Linked DNA regions of Homo sapiens. The protein of the gene in region 1 purifies or fractionates together with the protein of each later gene. This does not show direct contact. Each region holds a gene or a part of one and is shown in the gene's direction. Other genes may lie near its edges. The genes, in order: CYP4V2 and NEMF.

Region 1 (3,025 bases):
GTATTTGATGCGTATTTGATGGGTATTTAGCATCCCCTGCCTTGATCCACGTGTTCTTCTTTGAAGGGTATTTGATGGGTATTTAGCATCCAGTACCTTGATCCACGTGTTCTTCTTTGAAGGGTATTTGATGGGTATTTAGCATCCAGTACCTTGATCCAAGTGTTCTTCTTTGATGGGCATTTGATGGGTATTTAGCATCCCCTGCCTTGATCCACATGTTCTTCTTTGAAGGGTATTTGATGCGTATTTAGCATCTAGTACCTTGATCCACGTGTTCTTTGATGGGTATTTGATGGGTATTTAGCATCCAGTACCTTGATCCACATGTTCTTCTTTGAAGGGTATTTGATGGGTATTTAGCATCCCCTGCCTTGGTCCACGTGTTTTTCTTTGAAGGGTATTTGATGGGTATTTAGCATCCAGTACCTTGATCCACATGTTCTTCTTTGATGGGCATTTGATGGGTATTTAGCATCCCCTGCCTTGATCCACGTGTTCTTCTTTGTTGGGTATTTGATGGGTATTTAGCATGCCATGCCTTGATCCACCTGTTCTTTTTAGATGTCTGCACCCCCAGCCCCCACTGCTCTTTCAGGTCATCTTATCTACTTGCTTTCATCAGGGAAGTCTGACCGTCCCGCTACAGTAGAAGACCTGAAGAAACTTCGGTATCTGGAATGTGTTATTAAGGAGACCCTTCGCCTTTTTCCTTCTGTTCCTTTATTTGCCCGTAGTGTTAGTGAAGATTGTGAAGTGGGTAAGTATGCTATACCTAAAGTAGAAGGGAGAGGGAAACTTTCTAATGTCTACCTTGCTCCGGTCTCATAATGTATTGACTACTTCTTGACAGCAGGTTACAGAGTTCTAAAAGGCACTGAAGCCGTCATCATTCCCTATGCATTGCACAGAGATCCGAGATACTTCCCCAACCCCGAGGAGTTCCAGCCTGAGCGGTTCTTCCCCGAGAATGCACAAGGGCGCCATCCATATGCCTACGTGCCCTTCTCTGCTGGCCCCAGGAACTGTATAGGTTTGTATCCATCTGAATTGGTTTGACCTTTCAGGCCCACTTGATGGTGGGTTTCTCACAGTGATTTCTTTGAGATGTGATGTGACATTGCCCATATGCAACAGCCTTAAAAAAAAAATAGGTGGTTTCTTTTTTCCCTCACTGTGCTTTGTAGTTTTAAAATATTACGGTCAAAAGGTATATTAGTATATTCGCCTGCATGGGCTTCCATAGCAAAATACCACAGACTGGGTGGCTTAAACAGCAGAAATTTATTTTCTCACAGTTCTGGAGGCTGGAAGTTCAAGAACAAGGTGTTGGCAGGGCTGGTTTCTCCTGAGGCCTCTCTCCGTGGCTTGTAGATGCCATTTTCTCCTTATGTCTTCACTTGGTCTTTCCTCTGTGTGGGTCTGTGTCCTGATCTTCTCTCCAGTCAGACTACACTAGGGCCTACCCCAATGACCTCACTTATACTTACTGACCTCTTTCGATTACCTGTCTCCAAATACAGTCATATTCTAAGGTATGGGGGGGGCTTAGAATTTGGAGAGAGACACAATTACCCATAACATAAAACATAATTAGCTTCATGGTAGAGTTTCAAAATGTTGTAGAGTTTTAATTACAGTAGAATATAACTTATTGTGGTAAAAACTTTATTAATGATTACTTATGGTTAACCTAATTTTTGTGTTTATTGCTTTTAAGAATTTCATTTTGCAAATCAAAACAGCAAATGCTTGCCATATGGCCAGCTAGTACTTAAGCAAAATGAATGCACATCACCACCCTGCATTATAAACCCTTTTGGTTTTAGTATCTCTAGCATTTTGTCATTTATGTAAATGCAGACATCGGTAAAATGAGGCCAGAGTGAAACGGGTGAATCTGAAGCTTTTTTGGTGAATCCATAGTAAATGAAAGACCCACTAAGACATAATCTAGGGTAGTGAGTCTCAAGCTTGAAGGAGCTCAGGATTTATCTGGATCAGCTGGAGTACAAATTCTCTGATCCTCCCCAGCTATAGATGTGCAAGGTGGGATCAGGGAGGGAAACTCAAGACTCTTCATCTTTAACAGGTGTTCCAAGCCATTCTGGTTCTCCTTCCACCTACTGCGAAAATGTAAAGTGGCTCGCTTCCTATGACAGGACCTCTTGTTTCTCACATTTGGGGTAAATCTATAACTAAAGCGATGGTATCTACATTAATTTGAAGGTCAAAAGTTTGCTGTGATGGAAGAAAAGACCATTCTTTCGTGCATCCTGAGGCACTTTTGGATAGAATCCAACCAGAAAAGAGAAGAGCTTGGTCTAGAAGGACAGTTGATTCTTCGTCCAAGTAATGGCATCTGGATCAAGTTGAAGAGGAGAAATGCAGATGAACGCTAACTATATTATTGGGTTGTGCCTTTATCATGAGAAAGGTCTTTATTTTAAGAGATCCTTGTCATTTACAATTTACAGATCATGAGTTCAATATGCTTGAATCCCCTAGACCTAATTTTTCCTTGATCCCACTGATCTTGACATCAAGTCTAACAAAGAAAAAGTTTTGAGTTTTGTATTTTCTTTTTTCTTTTTTCTTTATTTTTTTTTTTTGAAACCGTGTCTCACTCTGTCGCCCAGGCTGGAGGAGTGCAGTGGTGTGATCTCAGCTCACTGCAACCTCCACCTCCCAGGTTCAAGCAATTCTTCTGCCTCAGCCTCCCAAGTAGCTGGGATTACAGGTGCCTGCCACCATGCCTGGCTAATTTTTTTGTATTTTTAGTAGAAACAGGGTGTCACCATGTTGGCCAGACTGGTCTCAAACTCCTGACCTCAAGTGATCCACCTGCCTCAGCCTCCCAAAGTGCTGGGATTATAGTCGTGAGCCACCACGCCTGGCCAGAGTTTTTTATTTTTATCACCACCATAGATGTTACAGTTGGCTGTGGTCACAAAAGTAGTTAATTGTGTCAGCACCCAAATAAACATCTAACAGGTTTCTCAACAGAGGAATCCACAGTCCAATT
Region 2 (3,827 bases), on another chromosome or scaffold:
TTGGGAATGATCAGACACTTTTCTGTTGATTTTTTGGAGAAATATGGGAGAAACAGTGGAATATTTTTATGACATTTTTAGGAAATCACCTGGCTTGGTTGGTAGTCCCACACTGACTTTCCTTATGATAATTCTACAGATGGAGGTGACACGAGCAGTGATGAGGATAAAGAAGAACATGAAACTCCTGTGGAAGTAGAACTCATGACTCAGGTTGACCAAGAGGATATCACTCTTCAGAGTGGCAGAGATGAACTAAATGAGGAGCTCATTCAGGAAGAAAGCTCTGAAGACGAAGGAGAATATGAAGAGGTTAGAAAAGATCAGGATTCTGTTGGTGAAATGAAGGATGAAGGGGAAGAGACATTAAATTATCCTGATACTACCATTGACTTGTCTCACCTTCAACCCCAAAGGTAATTAAAAAATAAAATTTTACATATTATTGTGTAAGCTGAGAATGATGATGAGGTAATCCTTACAAAGATAATACCAAGATTGACATCAGTACTTTTACACTCCATTGTCTTAATACTTTTTCAACATTTGATTGGGTCTCTCTGCAAAGAAATTCCCAGGACCAGGGTAGAAAAATACAGTGCATATAGAGTGGCCAAACTAGATCCAAATAGAAACAAGTAAATGGTTATAAATGCTAAAAACATAACAAAGGCAATTCCATCAAAGAAATGTGTTTTAGTCTATATAATGTTTTGCAGATCATCAGGTGAATAGTCCATAGTTATAAATGCATAATTAACTTAGGGGTAATTCAGAACAGTCTAGGAGTCAGACAGACCAGTATTGGGTCTTAGGGTGCGTCCTTGGGAAAATTACTTTGTGCTTAAGCTTCAGTTTCCTTCTTGGTGAAAACAGAATGGTATCCCTTTCATAGGGATTTGGTGAAGGTTTCATGCGTGTATACCATCTGGCAGTGCCTGACACACAGTAAGTTTTCAATACACGTCACCTATTTAAAAATGTATATGGAAGTGTGGAGAGAGGAGCAATTTGGTTGTATGTTTTTCTCACTTCACCAAATTTGAAAATTTGTTGGATTGCCAGTACTTAAGAGTATGATATGGGAATGTTTTGGGACTTTGTAAATGCATGTCTTTTACAGGCTAGTAGAGACTCCCTTGTGTTTATTTTCATAGGTCCATCCAGAAATTGGCTTCAAAAGAGGAATCTTCTAATTCTGTAAGCTATTTTCAGTTTTATGAAGAACATCCGATTCTCAGTGAATAATTTTCTACTTTTCAAAAAAGTTAATAGTGATATTTGCATTTGCCTGTTTTTTTGTTTTAATAGAGTGACAGTAAATCACAGAGCCGGAGACATTTGTCAGCCAAGGAAAGAAGGTAAACACATCTGTGTTAATTAACTAAAAAGCATGTTTTTCTTTTTTTTTTAATTGATAGCTCAGCTACCACAGATTACTTAGCTGTTTAAAGACTTCCTTCATTAAATTTACCAAGATTTAGCACAAATGTTTAGTTTTTAATATTAAGCTCTAATACATTTTTCTGTTTAAGGGCCCTAATCTATAACTATAATCAATGAAATAGACCTAGTAGAGTAAGTCCTCACTTAACATTTTCCTTTTTTTTTTTTTTTTTTTTTTTTTTGAAACAGGGTCTCGCTTTGTTGCCCAGGCTAGAGTGCTATGGCGCAGTCATGGCTCACTGCAGCCTCAAACTCCCAGGCTCAGGCAGTCTCCTGCTTCAGCCTCCTGAGTAGCTGGGACTACAGGCGTGTGCCACTACAAAAATTTTTATAGTTTTTGTAGAGACAGGGTTTCATCATGTTGCCCAGGCTGGTCTTAAACCCCTGGGCTCAAGTGATCCTCCCACCTTGGCTGCCCAAAGTGCTGGGATTACAGACATGAGCCATTGTGCCCGGCCTTCACTTAACATTTTCTTTTTTTTTGAGATGGAGTCTCGCTCTGTCGCCCAGGCTGGAGTGCAGTGGCATGATCTCGGCTCACTGCAAGCCCCACCTCCCGGGTTCACGCCGTTCTCCTGCCTCAGCCTCCCGAGTAGCTGGGACTAGAGGCGCCCACCACCATGCCCGGCTAATTTTTTGTATTTTTAGTAGAGACGGGGTTTCACCGTGTTAGCCAGGATAGTCTCGATCTTCTGACCTCGTGATCACCCGCTTTGGCCTCCGAAAGTGCTGGGATTATAGGCATAAGCCACCGCGCCTGGCCCACTTAACATTTTCAATAGGTTCTTGGAAACTTGGACTTAAGGGAAACAGTGTGTAATGAAACCAGTTTTGCCATGGGCTAATTGATATAAACAAGAGTTAAGTTCCTCTGGCATATTTTTGGTCACAAAACCATCACCAAGCTTCTAAATAAAGACTGAAAACTCTTCTAATATTAAACGTTAAAATAAATGTAAACTGTATGTATATTTAAGAAAGATGAATGAAAGCGAGCAAGATAATTATTTACCCAATTTTTGGTAAATCAATGAGTGATGGCAGTTGTAGTGGTAGTGGGTTAAATCAAGGATTATTTGCAAAGTGAAAACTATAGAGTACCTCCTACTACCATGAGGTTCAAAAACAAAAATGTGGCACATTCATTAAACACTTTCATACTACATTGTTGATTGTTATACATTTGTATGACTATAGTTTATGAATTTTTGACAATCATTTTTATTAAGTCATTCATTCATTCATTCATTCGTTTTTCAACCGCTTATTCCAGTTAAGGGTCATTGGTGGCTAGAGCCTATCCTGGCAGGTCAGGGCAAAAGGCCAGAACCAACCTAGAACAGGATGTCATTCTGTTGCAGGGCACACATACCTGCACTCATTCATGCTGGGATAATTTACACACACCAGTTAACCTGACATGCGCATTTTGGGATGTGAGAGAAAACCTGAGTACCTGGTGAAAACCCACAAAGACATGGGGAGAACATGTAAACTCTGCACAGATGGTAGCCGTGGCCAGGAATCAATTTTGTTCTCATCAAAGTTATAACACAATGATGTTGAATGAAATGATGTTATTTGAGGACTAGCTCTAATAAGACCTTTTATTACATAAACATGTACAATAATGATTTCAGTGTATTACATAGACTAGTTCTAGGGTGATATTGTCAGGAATAAATATGAATACCTGAAATTAGGAAAGTTTTATGTAAGGCAGAATAGTTGATTTTTTGTTTTTTGTTTTTTTTGAGACGGAGTCTCGCTCTGTGGCCCAGGCTGGAGCGCAGTGGCTGCGATCTCGGCTCACTGCAAGCTCTGCCTCCCAGATTCATGCTATTCTCCTGCCTTAGCCTCCCGAGTAGCTGGGACTACAGGCACCCACCACCACGCCCGGCTAATTTTGTTTTTGTATTTTTAGTAGAGATGGGGTTTCACCGTGTTAGGCAGGATTGTCTCGATCTTCTGACCTCGCGATCCACCCGCCTTGGCCTCCCAAAGTGCTGGATTACAGGTGTGAGCCACCGCGCCTGGCCGATTTTTTTTTTTTTTTTAATAGCAGGTCTCAGGAAGCAAGTAGAAGCAAGGGAAGGGCGGAAGGGAAGGGAACAACTACTGTAGGGTGGGAAAGACTAAGCAAACTAAAGCACTCCAGGAAGAGGCCCTAGAACAGAATGGACAATAAAGCCTTTTCATTTGAGAAACATAATCATTGAACAATTACAGAGAATTCTGAGCACATAGCCCTGTGCTAGATACTTACTGAGTATACAAAGAGGTGAAGTATAAAGCTCATGCCTTCAAGAAGCTTTTGAGTCCTGGATTCAGGAAGTAGTCATAAATATGTAAATAGTGTCTGAAAGTGATAAAGTAGTTCA

What was found.
Region 2: the proteins of CYP4V2 (region 1) and NEMF purify together in Homo sapiens (affinity purification with mass spectrometry; one large-scale study listed by BioGRID and IntAct). This does not show direct contact.

What each region holds. Positions count from the first base shown.
Region 1 is NC_000004.12:186,208,240-186,211,264, forward strand, and holds part of CYP4V2 (cytochrome P450 4V2), read left to right. Parts: intron 1-625; coding exon 626-760; intron 761-853; coding exon 854-1,033; intron 1,034-2,229; coding exon 2,230-2,402; 3' UTR 2,403-3,025. UniProt on the Homo sapiens protein: A cytochrome P450 monooxygenase involved in fatty acid metabolism in the eye.
Region 2 is NC_000014.9:49,797,009-49,800,835, reverse strand, and holds part of NEMF (ribosome quality control complex subunit NEMF), read left to right. Parts: intron 1-139; coding exon 140-416; intron 417-1,157; coding exon 1,158-1,200; intron 1,201-1,311; coding exon 1,312-1,361; intron 1,362-3,827. UniProt on the Homo sapiens protein: Key component of the ribosome quality control complex (RQC), a ribosome-associated complex that mediates the extraction of incompletely synthesized nascent chains from stalled ribosomes as well as their ubiquitin-mediated proteasomal degradation.